2 separate regions of the Homo sapiens genome follow, and region 1 is linked to region 2. Evidence: fine-mapped expression QTL. Tissue or cell type: whole blood. Region 2 holds a variant in brackets; the other region holds the start of a gene. All regions are shown on one strand. Distances are from middle to middle.

Region 1 (8,192 bases), 22 kb after region 2:
TTATGTGCGCACTGAGGGACACATCCACGTTCCCGGGGTTGGATGTGGAAGGCAGCTACCCCGACGGGTGTGCTCTCTGCATACGACGGGTGCTAACACTAGCATCACAGATGCAGTGTTATTAGCACTACAGAGGTTATTGTCAGTGTGGCGGGTGTTCTAGTTGCTTTCCTGACACTACATTTCTGTTCCAAGACCGCAGCTTGGCCCTGTGGCCGCCTCGCCTTGGGTGTGGAGAATGAACCTCGAGTGCGCTGGATTCACAGGGGATTTTGGTTTCTAATTTTCCACATGAAGGGTCTCTACCCCTCAGCAGTCAGGGCTGAAAACAGGAAGGATTTTACTCAACCATGGACGCCGCCGGCTCAAGGTGTCCCAAAGCGAGGGGCGTTTCCTGGTATGTGCTGAGGAGAACGCGGCTCCCGCCCTTGCAGGGTGCAGGCGCGGAGGAAGCGTGCGGGATGCGGCCGCCTCAAGGCTCAGAAAAGCCGGGCTCGCGCGTGCTCTGCTGGCGGCCGGGGGCACTGCAGCGCCCTAGAGCTCAAGGCACTGTCGGAAGCTGAGCGCCCTCTGCTACCCCTCCTGCTGCACCAACTAAAAGACAGCATGGAGTGTTCGGCGCCATCATTCTAGAAATGCAAACTGACACAGAGCCCATTAGCCCGTGAGTTTCTAAAAATGCAGAAGGGACAATTAATTGGAAACCATAGGAAATGAAATCAACATGAATGCACATTTTACAACTTATGCAAAAAGTCACTCAACATAGTCCTCAGACTTAAAATGCAAAACCGTCAGAGGCCTCTTAACCACAGTGACTTTATTTCAAATAAAGGCTTTTAAAAAGTTAAATCTGGGCAGGGTGCAGTGGTCACATCTGTAATCCCAGCACTTTGGAAGGCCAAGGCGGGTGGATCACTTGAGATCAGGAGTTGAAGACCAGCTTGGGCAAATAGCAAGACCCTTATGTCTACAAAAAATATATATATATATTAGATGGCATGCTTGCACATACCTGTAGTCCCAGCTACCCAGGAGGCTGAAGCGGGAGGATTGCTTGAGCCCAGGAGTTCGAGGCTGCAATGAGCCAGCCATAATCGCACCACTGCACTCCAGCCTGGGCGACAGAGTGAGACCCTGTCTCTCTCTCTCTGTCACACACACACACACGTTAAATTTGTTGGATTATATATTTCGGGGGTTGAGCACTTTTCGTTATAAAATATTTATGATTGTGGGAACAAGTTAATAAAGACATGAAAGTTATTTAAATGTCCCAGAACTTTAAGAACAAAAAGCATTCTTAGTTTAAAAATAAGTTTTACTTTAAAGGTAACAGTACACACATAAATTGTTGTTAAAATCGACAGTAACAAAGAGAAGTAACAATACTAATAGCCTGTCACAAACTGATTCTTAATAACCTATATAAACAAACATTAAGCCCGGGCGCCGGGTGGCTCATGCCTGTTATCCCAGCACTTTGGGAAGCCGAGGCAGGCAGATCACTTGAGGCCAGGAGTTCCAGACCAGCCTGACCAACATGGTGAAGCCCAGTCTCTACCAAAAACACAAAAAATTAGCCGGGTATATTGGCACGCACCTGTAATCCCAGCTACTTGGGAGACTGAGGCAGGAGAATCCTTGAACCCAGGAAGCAGAGGTCGCAGTGAGGCGAGACCATGCCATTGTGACAGGAGAGAAACTCTGTCTCAAAAAAAAATTATATGTTTACAACAGGTGCATTTCTCCTCTTGCTTTCTGAGGACGCCCTGCTATGTAGCTGAGTAGTCACTAATAAACTATCTTAACTTCACTATACTCTGTGACTTGCCAAAAGGTCTTTCCCATGTGAAATCCAAAAACCTGTTCTTGGGGTCTAGGACAAGACCCATTTTATAATGACAAAACTATACAAATTCTAGAGGGAAACATAGAAAGAAAGCTATGTGACCTTGCGTTTGGCCATGAGTTTTAACACGACACTATCAGAGGCATTTGAACCCCTCCTCTATATGAACTCCAGGGTGGTTTATGTTCCATTGGCTAAGAGAAAGTTTTCTTCAAAAATGTGACATGATTTGAGGTCAAACATTAATATCAAGTAAACTCAAAAGATTGAGAAGCTAGCATTAGTTCTGGGAAAACCAGAAGTGTGCCTTTTTTGGAAATAATCATTGGTAGCACAAACTTAAGAATCTCCAAAGGAAATAAAAATGAGTTATTAACTTACAGTTTTCACCAATTAAGATATAAATGAAGCTAACGAAATCCGGAAATACAATTTCACTGTTTTTAATGTTCATTAAAAAAAAATCCTTATCAAATAGCCCCAGTAAGTCACCAATTAAGTCTTTACTACTTAAAAGCAAAATCCACCTATGTCCTGAACAGTATCCACTTTACGAGCCTCATTATATGTACGAGATAAAATTCAGAAATAAATAAATATACATGTATACGTATACAAATATATTTCAAATTAAAAAATACTTTTAGATAGTGGTATGTATTACATTTAGAAATTAATAACGAAGTAAATTATGGGATGTCATCCACGCCTGTCCCAAAGGTACCGAATTTATAAATCATCTCAGGTGCGGAGCAGGACAGGTTGAAAATAGGAATGACATGAACCCGCGCGGAACAGCTGCCGGCGCGGTGTCCAGGGCGGCACCCCGCCCGGTCCCGGCCCCTCCAGCCCTGGGCCCGACCCCTACTACGCCTCTGCCTCGACGCGAACGCGGAGCCCGAGCGCGCGTCACGCCGTGTGGGGCCGAAGAGGCTGCTACCCAGAGGCGGAGTGCGGGCTCGCGAGGGTCCCCACCCGACTCTCGCTCCCGCCAGCACCTACGGACTCGCGTCCCCGCCGCGCGCCGACTCGGGAGCAGCACCGCCCCCGGCACAGGAGCCTCACGCGCCTCTTACCTAACAGGAAGTTGGGTGGAAGCAGCGCGGACCCACGGCACACCGAACGCACTCCAACAGAACCCGACGCAGACACGCGCTTTCAACCGGCGGAGACACTGGCAGGGCCAGAAACGCGCGCAGCGGGGGCGGGAGGTCGGTAAGCTCCCCGCCCCTGCCCGAGACCCCGCCCCGGCCCGGCCCCGCCTTTTTCTCTGCCTCCCCTCCCTGCACGTACGGGCCCCGCCCCTCGCGCGACGTTTTTTGTTGACCCGGAAACGGATTCTCCGGAGCCGAGGTCCGCTCGGGTGAGTGCCCTCCGCTTTTTGTGGCCAAACCCAGCCACGCAGTTCCCTTCCTGCGGCGTCCTCCACACCCGGGGTCTGCTGGTCTCCGCGGATGTCACAGGCTCGGCAACCGCCCTCCTGTCGGCGGGGAGTCCCGCGACGCCCGGAAATGCTCCGAAGCCTGTCGCCCAGCTGCCAGATCTGCGTCTGTGTCCGGTTCCGTCACTGAGGTCGCCCCTGTCCGGCCCTTCCACCCTAGTTCTCTTCACCGTCCGCCCATCCTATCGCGCGCGGCCTCAGGTCCCGATTCGGCATGTGGCTTGTCTTCCATCGTCCCCACCCTCGCCCCTCTTGGCCCCTCAGGGCAGCCCTGGGATTCGGCAGACGCCAGTCCTCCCTGAGATGCTTCCCCATCCTTCCCTCCGCCAGGCCCTACGTCTCCGCAAACCCCACGCTTCGGGGTGGCCGCCTCAGACAGGACCCTGAGTCCGAGACTGGGGTAGGGGACCTGCCCGATCCTGTAACAACCCTCGTGCTTCTGCACAATCGCCTCCCACTAGCGGTGACTGTTGGGTGTTTACCTTCCCGGTGTCCCACTGAGAAGCGGGCTCTTCCTTGGCAGGGGCTTCTTCATTGCCTCGCTGTGGATGTCGAGGTGGGGCAGGAGAGTGAGGAGAAAACAGAGGAGGGAGGTAGAGCCAACGAGCGAGAAAAGGGGAGGGAAGTTTAGATGGGAAGTGGATGGGTCTGAGGAATTTGAACAAACACCGACAATGAAGGAGAGTGACCTGAGCAAGTAGTAGTGGGGTAAATGGAAATAGACAAAATGGGAATCAGCAGAGATATGGAGGACAGAATACAATGAGGAGGCCTTGACCGTCAGTAGCAGAGAGGGCAGCAGAAGCCTAATTCCCAAATTCTTTAGATGGTTTTCTGATTTCCAAATTAGTTTCCCTTTTAAATTTATTGTGTCAGGTTCAGCTTATGAGGCCTCAATACTTTTCAGTCTTAATTGTATATTGAAAATACTTTTTGTTTACTAAATGCTTTTTACATTAATTCAGTGTGCACTTCGTAAGGATAATGATGATTTGAGTTAGTTTAGTATTCAACAGCTTCCTCTATTCCTTTATATGATCTCTGTATTTAATGGCTGTGGCATAAAGTTTCCAACTAAGTTTAAGTATCAAGTTTTCTTTGTGCTGTTTTCTGCAAATATTGAAGGATGACCTGGATTGTCCTAGAACTTTGTTCCAACAGATTACATGTGTTCATAATGAATAGACTGCTCAAAGATATTTCCAAAGCTCACCTTTTATGTTTTTCAGTTCCAATAATTACATCTTTTTAAGGTTTATATTTTTTGATGACTTAATGTGATGTTCTGGAGAAGACAAATGCTTTTAATCAATATGATTAAAACCGTGAAAGACAAATCGCTGTTACTTAAGAGTGTGACATATGATCTGAAATCTTTAGGGGGCAGGGATGTTAAGGGAAAACTGCCACTATCGTATTAAGGTCATGCCATTCCTGTGAAGCTGGTGCTTGTTACTCTCTACTGGCTTCTGTTCACCTTTCCACCGGCCCCAAGACACACACATAGTGACACAAGGCAGTGGACAGGGAAAGAGCAAGACTTTATAAAGTAAGCACACAACAAAGGTATCTTTCTAATGAGGAGGAGGTGTTGGTTCTGGGAAGGAAGCTTGGGATTTGGGTATTCAGGATCCAGAAGTGAGAGAGCCTGGGAAGTTCAGGAACCAGAGAAAGAAAAAGCCTTGCCCATTCTCACCCATGACACTGTGCTCAGCAGGTACTAGCAGACTTCAGGCTCTGTGACTAAAAGGGGTCAGACCAGTTGATATACCCACAGCTGCCATGTAAGGATGTGTGTGGACTTCACTAGGGAAGAACGGTGTTATGAAAGAAGGGGCAGAAAAACTCACCTGTTGGTCTGCATGTAGAGGTTTATTGTCCTGAATTCCTGGAGGTTCAGTGAAAAGCAGAAGATTGTCTTTTACACATGTTGAGTTATGCCCCCATATATGTGGTTGTGGTAAAGAAAGAGGGTGTGTTGATGAGAGGTCCTGAAATGCATTTTCCTAATACTCAGCAGGGGCTTCTCAAGAAGGATCTTCCCTAAGAAAGAAGCTCAGAGAACAAAAATGGAAAAGGATTAGATATGGCACTTTCACTGGAAAAAGTCATGTTATTCATTGATTGTTTTGTCATCTCCCGCCTTAAGTGTTGTTTTTAGGATGTGGTAATCTCTGACCCTGCCTAACACATTTCCCAACTCACCCATAGCCTTCCCTTAACGTCCTCCCATCTTCACGCTATCACACTGTGACCCAGTGAATTCGAACTTGTGAAGTTCCATTCGGGGGATCATATGGGAAGGGCTTCACACCCAGACATAGATTATAGATGGGAAGTGGGCCACATGGTGTCAGTGAGGCAAGTATGGGTCGTTTAGGGACAATGCACTGTCAGATCTTTGTTGACCATGATTAGAGAAACTGTGCATATTAGTAGTGAATTAATGTCAGGAATATCTGACAAATCCTGGAAAAGAAGATTGATGAGAGGAAATGTGTTCTGCCCAACTGTATAATGCATTTGAAGCTTAAAACAATGAATCAGTATTGATCTGGCCACAAAATATTAATGATTTGAATTAAAAAGAAAAGTTTAGAAAATGATAGCTTTGACAAATTAAGGTAGCATTTCATCCACACGATGGAGTGTGTTTTATTCAGTAATTGATTTAAAAATGGAATCAACCTAAGTGTCTAACAGGAGGGAGTTTTATAAATTGTTCACAGAACATCTGTTCCAAGGAGACCTTGATGTTCATAGATTTGTAAAGAATGCTGCTTACTAGCACACTGACTGCTCTGCAAATGTCTGAGGGTTCCTCCACTTGGGGCAAGTTGGGGGTTTGATCGCAGAGTAAATAAATGGTGCATTTTATAATGTAATATATTCTAGCAAGATGCAGCCCACAAACTGTATAGATACTCTTATGTACCACATAAAGTTCATCTACTACTTTAACCAGAACTTGATACTGTATGTATGTTTTTTTTTTTTAGATTTGGATAAAATGACAACTCATTGTTATTTCCAGTTCACAAAGTAATTGTGAGGCTGAATAAATTTTATTATTTTATAGACATATGTGTAAAATGAATTTTTCTATGAAACTCATTTTTGATGTATATTAGATGCTATTTTATATTCTGTAGTTTAATTATATGTACGCACACACAAACACACACTTCGGTGTCTTATTATGTTTCTGCAGTGAAACCAAAATCCTTCCTTCACGCCCTTTGATTTTATGTTTTCCTCAGGAAGGCAGGAGCTATTGTATATGATAAAATATTATGTTTTATTCAGTCCACTTATGAAATTGTTTAATATTGTTATAAATATTTATATGACTTATTTTAAATTTCCAAATAACATAGGTTACATGAAATTTGACAACTTTATTTTTTTCTTTTCACAACTATTTTGACTGTATACTCACCAAAAATCAAAATTTAGACAAAATTGACTTTTAGACTAATTCTCATTTTTTACATGTAAAAGACCACATGGGACTTTTAAGTCTAGGTTGCCCTGAGTCTACAGTCACTGAGGTTTTATGTCACTATGTCCTCCATTCTAATAATAGGATTTTCAGGCTTTATTCATGTCATTTTTATATCCTCATTAAGTTTTAAAATTTATTTACATGGGTCTACAAATTTATTTCAAATCGTAGTCATAATATTTGCCTGTTGTAAATAGACACTGATTTTGTGTGTTTGCTTTTTTTAAGGACTAATGTTGCTAAACAGGAAATATTGATTTCAGAATATTCATAATAGTTTTGCCCACTTTTTAAATATTCTTATTAGTATTGATAATTAGAATTGATTCCACTTTTTCAAGTTTACAGTCACGTCATCTGAGAATAACTACAGTTGCAGCTCTTTGACTCCATTTTTGTAGTCCCTCTCCTTTTCCCTCTTGTTTTGGTCCCACCTCAGGCATCATGTGCAGTGGTGAATGGCATCAGCCTCACCCAGCCTCCTTTTTCCAGCCTTACCTTTAGTGGAAATGGTTCTTTTGTTAACTGCTGAATATATTGTTGAGATTTTATTGATTAAGAAGAATTAGTCCCCACAATTTGGTATGATTTTTAAAGATTTTATATTATTTTTAAAGATTTAAATTATATGAAAATGTTTTTTCAAAGGTCTATTAATGTGATTTTTTTAATCTTTAAAATTACTTTGTGAAAATGATAGGTTTTCTAGTATGGAATTATCCTTTTATTATTGCAATAAACTCCACTTTACCATGCTCTGTCATTATTTAACCATACCAGTGATGGCCAGGTGGCCAAAATAAATAGCCAAATGGCTAAAATTGTATTGATGATTTTTGCAAATGTAAGTAAGGAAAATTGTTGGTTAAATTTGTAGTTATTGTTACATTCATGTTCATTTTGATTAGCATAATAAACTAATGAGGACAGGCTTATTTTTCTCCTTCAAAATAACTTAGGTTACAAAGGAACTAGAAGTGATTTCACATGTAAGAACTCTCACAAATCACTTTTACAGTTAAACTCTGATATATAACTTAAACATTAAAATTGGCTAATCAGATTTTTGTGCTGATTAATGAGGGAAAGTTTTTACTCTTTTTGTGGAAAGTAATATACATATTCATGTTGGAATATAATTATTCCCATTTCTTAGATTTTAAATTACTACTTTTAAATAAATACAGTCTCTTTTATTAACCTGTGTTTTTTCTTTCCACCGTGGGTCTTTTCAGTTTCATGATTTTGCTCTCAAAACTTTTTAATTATTGATTTCTGTCAAATCTGTTCATTCATTACATTATTTTATTATTTATTAAATTGTTTTATCTTTTTAAGTCTTATTAATATGTACTGAATTTGTAACAATTTGGAAAGTCAAGTAACTCCTGTTT
Region 2 (8,192 bases):
GGTGATGAATCTGAATCCACTCTGGCACCAACCTCCTTCCCGCCATCCCAGGCAGGCTGACAGCAGTCACGTTTGTATCTACTGCACCTGCCTCTTTTGAATGTCTTTCTCTGCCCTAATCTGTACTTATGGTGCCAGGTTTCTCTTAGGAATGTCCCCTTTGTCCTTCTTATCAGCATGTAGCTAGCAATATTCTGACATTTTTATTGCAGTGAATGATGATTGGGGCATCTTAAGAGAAGTTCTAGGGTGTTTCTGTGTAGGTACCTCTTCTCCCTCCTAAGCACAATTGACAAGTGCCCATCCACTCCAGCACTGGAGATGCTACTAATATGTGCATTTTTGGTGGTCCCTCCAGGTGAGCCTTCACAGACTTTCCCTTTTCCAGGAGCTCCCCCTCCTGTTCACGTCTAGCTAGCTATCTACTCTAACAGAGCCCACTATCCTGTGTCTTTCCCAAAAATAGTGAGGGAATGATTAATTGGAAACCATAAGAAATCATATGCATGTAGATGAAAACTTTACAACTTACACAAATAACCACTCAAAATCATCCTTACACTAAAAATGCAAAACTATACAATTTCTAGAAGAAACTATAGAAGAAAAGCTATGTGCCTTTGCGTTTGGTGATGAATTTTAACAAATGACACAGAAGGTTGATATACACAGAAGAAATGACAATGTGGATTTCTTAATATTTACAGTTTATACTCTGGAAGAGACCTTGTTAAGAGAACCAAAAGACAAGCCACATATTGAAGAAAATATTTGCAAAATACAGATCTGAGAATTTGTATTCAAAATACATAAAAAATTGTTAAAACTAAACAATAAGTTAAACAGCCCAATTAAAAATGCACACAGATCTGAACAGACGCCTCACCAAAGAAGATCTACAGATGGCAAGTACACTTACAAAAAGATGCTCAACATACTAGAGAACTGAAAACCACAAAAAGATAGCACAGCTGGTCTATATCTCTTAGAACTGCTAAACTCTTTAACAAATGACAAATTGCTGGAGGAAAAACAAGAACTCTTTTCATTGCCGGTGGAACACAGTGTATAAGACCAAAATATGCCACCCCAAAATATAATGGTAGGAAACCAGAATATGCAACCCCAAAATATGTCCCTTTGGCTTAAGAATTATTCCAAGCTAATTATTTTGAAAAAAAAAAATGCTAACAAAGGAAGTTGTGAAAACAGAGAAGTTACACTTGTGTAAGGAAAATTTACATCTATAAAGGAAATCACCATTTAAAAGCTACCTCTCTCGACACCAAGAAGAGAAGGATAACTAAATCACTAAAGAGTCTTATCAATGGAGAATGCATGGACTTAAGTCTGTATAATGAACCTTACCCTTGTCTAATGTGCTTTTGCTGGTTAACTCCCCAATACTGCACCTCAAATCTTCTTTCTTTAAGTTGAAGACAGTATTTATGCTTGAATTGAAAGCCACCTGTTGGAGATTTACTCATTTTTCCCTGAATATCTCCCATGTAACCATAAGGTATACGTGTTTTTCAACTTTTCTGTTTTTCTCATTTTAATCTGTCAGTTTTTACAGAGCATCCCATCTAAGAATTCCGAAAACAGAAAATTATTTTTCCTCCCCTATTACAAGTTGGGCATTTTTTTCCAAAGCTAAACAAGTCTCACCTTACAATCCAAAAATAACATTCCTAAGTATTTTGACAACTACTTTGATGTTATTTCCAATCAAAAGCTACCATGCAATTATTTACATAAGCCCTATTCATAATGACCAAAGGAAAAAAACGGAATCAGAAAGTCTTACAATAGATGACTGTATGGGAATCCACTCAGACATCAAAAGTTGTTATAAAGATTATTTAAATGAAAACATTTGAGATACTGAAGATAAAAGAAGAAATCTTACCACAACTTACTTTGTCCAATTAAAGCAGAGCTCCCAGAAAAATACAGCTGCCATTAACCCCATCCAAGGAGTTTCTTGCAAATTCAGCTGCCATGAAGACAGCGTACTCTTTCGCATTAGCATTGATAAACAAAAATTAAATTATAAGCTCCCAACTGACTGAACAGAACCACTCTTGGCTGAGGGGACCACAGAGTAACTTTCAAAACTGAGTTCTCAGCTTTGCTAGGATGGGATGATGGGGTTAACATACACATCGTTAAACCCACTCCTTTGCTAACCATGATGAGGCTTTCTTCCCTAAGGATTTAACAGAAACCAGCCCTTTCAAAGCCTCCACTACCGATATCAACCTCTCCTTTCTTGCCTGATAAGAGACCACCCACAACAGAGAGGTTCTGGCCAGCGTACAGAGGATGCACAGAGCGAGTTTTCATGTCCTCTGCTTCACCTTTTAATGTCAGAGGGCTGAAAACTCCACCCTGGGATCATGCTAACACTGCCATTTTTTGTACATGGGACCCATGAAGAAGCCAGAAACTCAATTGTGCATGCATGCATTTCTCCTTCCATAAATATTCATGACTCCTCCTGGAGCTTATTAAATAAATGTATTTGGCCATTCCAGTCAGCATAAATTGCTATTTCCTTTACCTCCTCCTTGAAGAGTCTGTTTCTGGCTTCTGGCTGGAGGCTATGCTTCCCAGCCTGTCAGAAGGACAACCCTGCAGGCTACAACCCTTTATAGGAAATAAATCTCTCACTGGTTGGGTGGCTCATGCCTGCAATCCCAGCACTTTGGGAGGCTAAGGCAAGTGGATCACCTGAGCTCATGAGTTTCAGACCAGCCTGGCCAACATGATGAAACCCTGTCTCTACTAAAACTGCAAAAAATTAGCCAGGTGTGGTGGTGGGCATCTGTAATCCCAGCTAATCAGGAGGCTGAGGCAGGAGAATCGCTTGAACCCAGGAGGTGGAGGTTGCAGTGAGCCAAGATCACGCCATTGCACTCCAGCCTGGGCAACAAGAGTGAAACTCTGTCTCAAAAAAAATAAAAATAAACATAAAAATGAAGAAATGTCTCCTTTCCAAATTTATGAACCTCATCATTCTTCCGTTGACAGCATTAAAAGGTTCAAAAAGACCTTTCCATACTCTCCCACAGAAGCCCTAGAAATTGTCATTTTGTTCATCATTCTGGATGCCTGAGAACTTGTAATCCAATGAGTAGAAAGTTTGGTACCCCATTTATGGCTGTCAACCCGCCAGTTCTCAGGAGTTTGTATAAAAGCCTAAATCCGAAAGGATCTCATCCCATTAGGACCCTTGTCTCCTTTTCTGTTGCCTTTGCCCACTGGCTCTGGCAACAGGGGTCTTTCTTTCTCCTTGGCTATCTTTGGATATGGGGGCTCCGTCTTCTGTGCCACCTTAGGGAATGCCTTTTGCAGGCATGGCTAAGTCATTAAAAAGCCTTCAGTTTCAGTAACATTTTGAGTGAGCACTCTCTGAAGCTGCGTTGGAATCTCAGGCTTCTTTGTCTGGAAGATAACTCTTGGGCTACAAGTTTCTTATCCTAGCTTTGGTTTTGAGGCCTCTCTGTTCTCCTCTTGGGTTGGAAGTTATTCCTGGCTTTTTGTTTCAAGGTGTCTCTGTGATCTTGAACTTGCTCCTTTCATGAGAACTTCTCAGTTGACTAAATTCTCCCTTCTCAAACCTCTGCTATGTGTTCCACCAATATGGAACTAATTCTATTTCCTTTCCTGTTTACATGATTTTACTAAGAATTATTTAGAAATTTAATCGCTCCTTTGAGAAAATTTTTATCTTCCAAATTGCCTCCTTTTAGACTTTTCCTTTCCCAGTTGAGTCTCTCAACTCCCTGTAATCACTGAAACTTTAGGCACCCCACTCCATGCCTTGGAGTGCTCTCCATGCTCTCAATGTGCTCAAGAATCTGCAAAAGCAAACATCTGGGGCTGAAAAATAAAATAGAAAAAATTTTATTTCTCAGCCTCCATAAGATTGTATGTCCAAACAAAAGAAAATCTTAAAAATCTCCAAAAATATTGGTG[A/C]GAAAAAAGCTTTGGCCCTCATATGAAGAAGATAAAAACTTGTTCCATTTTCCAGATACACAGTTATAATACAAATACAAAATGGGGCAAAGACAAAAACCAAGTCTTCTATATAAACTAGTGAATTTTGTATTATTGTAATAACATTAGTCAGGGTTCTCCAGAAAGGCAGAATCAATAGGATATATGTAGATAGATGAGAGAAGACTCATTAGGGGAATTGGTTCACATAATTATGGAGGCTGAGAAGTTACACAATAGCCTGTCTCCAAGTTGGAGAACCAGGAAAGCTGGCAGCATGACTCACTCCAGATATAAAGGACTCAGAATCAGGGAAGCCAATGGTGTAACTCTGATTCTGAGGCCAAAGCTCTGAGACACTGATTCTGATGTCAAGGGCAGGAGAAGAAGGATGTTTCAATTTCAGGAGATAATTCACCTTTCCTCTTCCTTGTTATTCTATCTGGGCTCTCAACCAATTGGATGGTGCCTGTATTCATCCATTTTTATACAGCTGTGAAGAAATACCTGAGTCTGAGCAATTTATAAAGAACAAAGAGGTTAAATGGGCTGACAGTTCCACGTGGCTGCAGAGGCCTCACAATCATGGCAGAAGGGGAAACAAAGACGTCCTTCTTCACATGGCAGCAACAAGAAGAAGTGCTGAGCCAAAGGGGAACAGCCCCTTATGAAACCATTGGATCATGAGAACTCACTCACTGCCATGAAAACAGAATGGCAGTAACAACCACCATGATTCAATCACCTCCCACTGGGTCCCTCCCACGACATGTACGGATTATAGGAACTACAATTCAAGATGAGATCTGGGTGGGGACACAGGCAAACCATATCAGTGCCCATCCACACTGGGTCAGGGTTATCTCAGTGTCTTCCAGAAACACCTTCACAGATATGCCCAGAAATTGTGTTTCACCAGCTACGTGTGTCTCTCAATCCAGTCAAGTAGATGTCTAAAATTAACCATCAGAATATTTATGCCTGTTTCATGGCTGAAATTGTTTGACCAGCTATGTATGTTTCTTAATCCAATCAAGTAGATGTCTAAAATTAACCATCAGAATATTTATGCCTGATTCATGGCTGAAATTTCAGGATGAAAGCTATGAAATCTCTATTTGTGTTTGTATATCTATTACTGTATGTAATGTATATGTGATATTTTCTTAACTCCGGATAGCACTGCAAAATTCATTTATAAAATCCTATAAAAGTGCTCTATTCTAACTTGGCTTGGAAAAAAATAACCATTTATAAATAAATATTCACCAAACTCCTAGAAATATAGGAACTGATCAAATGTTTTTTAAGTTAACATGATTTGGATAAAACTTACTTAAATGAGATTAATATAAAATTTTTGGTGTAATAAAACTATGTCTTCAAAGTTATCACTTGAATATAAAACAAACATAAATTCCTATTCTGCTTGAGTTCTAGTCAAATAAGCTAATATTATACTTACAGAAATGTAAAATCTTAAAGCTTATAGATTTGATTCTAATTAAGTTGTCACTCTTATGAAAAACATTATTCTTTTATGGTGAAAAGATACACATGTATTTAGAGTTAGCCAGCTGGACTCAGTTTAGATGATCCCAATTTTGTTGCAACATCCAAAGCTTCATAATCAGGAGCCAGTCGAACATATATGCCTTGTTCTCTTTATCAGGAAAAATCAGGGTGGTGACCTTGGCCACATCACTGTCATAGACCTTCTTCACAGCCTGTCTGATCTGGTGCTTGTTGGCTTTAACATCCACGAAGAACACAAGCATGTTGCTTTCTTCTATCTTCTTCCGGCCCACTCAGTGGTCAGCGGAAACTTGATAGCATAGTGGCCAAGCTTGTTTCTCCTGGGGGTGCTCTTCCGAGGATATCTGGGCTGCCTCCGAAGTCGCAGTGTCTTGGGCCGCCTGAAGGTGAGTGACATGCGGATCTTCTTTTTTGCGTGTGGCTGCGGACACCTTTCAACACTGCCTTCTTGGCCTTTAAAGCCTTCACTTTGGCTTCGGCTTTAGGAGGAGCAGGAGCTTCCTTCGCTTTCGGTGCCGTCTTGTGAAAAGCGAAAAACATTATTTCAAAAATAATTTGTTCACAGTAAATCTGCCTAATAGTAGTTTCCAAACTACTTTTGCTAATTTTTAACCTTAAACTTAAGCTAAGTAAAAGATTTGCATTAAATATCTAGACCATTTATAAATAAGATACAATACTAAAACATTAATTACTGAACATAAATAATTCAAGTTTATATACTTTTGGCTTCCTGTTTTTACAGAAAGACTAAAGATATTTTGGCCCGTTAATAAACATGTTTTTTTCTGCCACACTGAGAAATTGTATTATGAGGAAATACATCCCTCTAGATGTTGGGAGACAGTATATTCATACATTTTCTAACCTACTATAGAATGCTAATATATGACAGTTTATAACTGACTACTTCCTAGTTTTCTCTGGAAAATAAAAGATTACTAAGTATTAAAATTATAATCAGTATATGTAAATAAAAAGATTAGAAATAATGGAATAACTAGAAACAACCCCATGCAAAGCATGCAAGAAAAGTAGGGCATGTTTCACAAGTAAAGTAGGATGTATTTTTTATAAGGAAAACCATACATAAGATACAAATAAAAAGAGATACCTAACCTTCCCTGTGTTACATTTGTATGGGTAAAATGTTATGTTTTCAGAAATGATATAAAATTCCTGTAAATTTGTTATGTCCTCCTTATCCATGCTATGTGCCAGTATAGAGTAATGAGTCATAATTCCAATTATTATTTTAAATATTGTGCCGGGTGCAGTGGCTCATGCCTGTAATCCCAGCACTTTGGGAGGCTGAGGAGGATGGATCACAAGGTCAGGAGATCCAGACCATCCTAGCTAATTTCTTACTTTGAGATTGCTATCCACTATTTTTATATATACGTGTGTGTGTGTGTGTGTGTGTGTGTGTGTGTGTGTGTGTGTATTCCAAATCAGTTGTCCTAGCTTGCTCCAGCATGCCTGGGCAGAACTAGACAAGCCCCAGCCCATAATACATGCCATTCCTTATTTGGAGATGCTTCCTTAACTATCCCTGGGCAACTTCCTTTTCTTTCTTTGTTCTATTCCCCTTACCTAATTAAGAAAGTGTTAAACTAATAGTCAATCGGGTAAAGTGTAAAATGTGAGGTCCTATTTCAGCCAGTGGAAACTGGACACAGCACTAGGGTAGACACATCAGGTTATAAGTAACTCTGTCTCCTTTGTTTGGTGTGCTCTTGTGGCTGGACAGCTATTGAGTAGCACCCTTTATGCAGAAAGTAAAGCTCGCCTCACTAAGACATCATTTGTTCCCACGTTGTTTTTTTTTTTTTTTTTTTTTTGGAACACCAAAATCTTCATTCCCAACAGCACTCTGAGAAAAGCCAGCCTGATACCTAGATTACAGGGTTCACAGCCTTCAGGTTAGTAAAGAAGGTCATTTCCCGGTAGGCCCAGGAATTTGGGGATATTTTGGGGGCCTCAAGAAGAGAGGAATTCACACAAAGCCATAAGGACTGCGGCTGAAATTTGATAGTATGTGCTTGGCTTGGGTTTTAGCCTGAATAAGGCCTTTAAAAGTCAAATCTGAGATTCTGTATGAAAACTTCCAGCAAAGAAACTTGAAAGCACCTATGTGGTCATCTCCTGTTCTTGCTGCACTTATGTAAATAATCAAGCAAAATCTAACAAAACTAGACTTATTTTTAAAACAAGAATAGTCTTACTTTGATTATGATCAAAAATGATGGTTACTACAGAGAGAAATTTTATGTTTCAATGGAAAACTATAATTTAGCCGGGCATGGTGGCACATGCCTATAATTGCAGCACTTTGGGAGGCCAGGAGTTCAAGACCAGCCTGGGCAACATGGTGAAACCCCATCTCTACCAAAAATACAAAAATTAGATGGGCATGATGGCATGTGCCTGTAGTCACAGCTAATCAGGAGGCTGAAGAGGGAGGATCGCTTGCACCCAGGGGGTAGAGGTTGCAGTGAGCTGAGATTGCACATTTGCACTCCAGCCTGGGCGACAGAGCCGGACCCAGTCTCAAAAAAATTTTTATTTCTTTTTGAGAAATTTGACCCCCACTGTGTCAGTGTGGGGCGGTGGGGCCTAGTGGAAGGTGTTTGGGTCATGGGGACGGATCTCTC

Evidence for each region. PIP is the estimated chance that this variant, and not a neighbour inherited with it, causes the effect.
Region 1: it holds the start of ZNF596, and the variant in region 2 is fine-mapped to the expression of ZNF596 in whole blood (INTERVAL, PIP above 0.99).

What each region holds. Positions count from the first base shown.
Region 1 is chr8:229,201-237,392 of GRCh38, forward strand. It overlaps ZNF596 (zinc finger protein 596), which reads left to right and starts at 3,256. Exons shown (of 6, transcript NM_001042416.3): 1 at 3,256-3,494. It also overlaps the pseudogene RPL23AP53. RefSeq lists a silencer at 3,023-3,122 and an enhancer at 3,143-3,462.
Region 2 is chr8:207,654-215,845 of GRCh38, forward strand. It overlaps the pseudogene RPL23AP53. Among named protein-coding and RNA genes, the nearest start is that of ZNF596, 21 kb to the right of the region's middle. The variant A/C (reference allele first, on the strand shown) is at 3,982.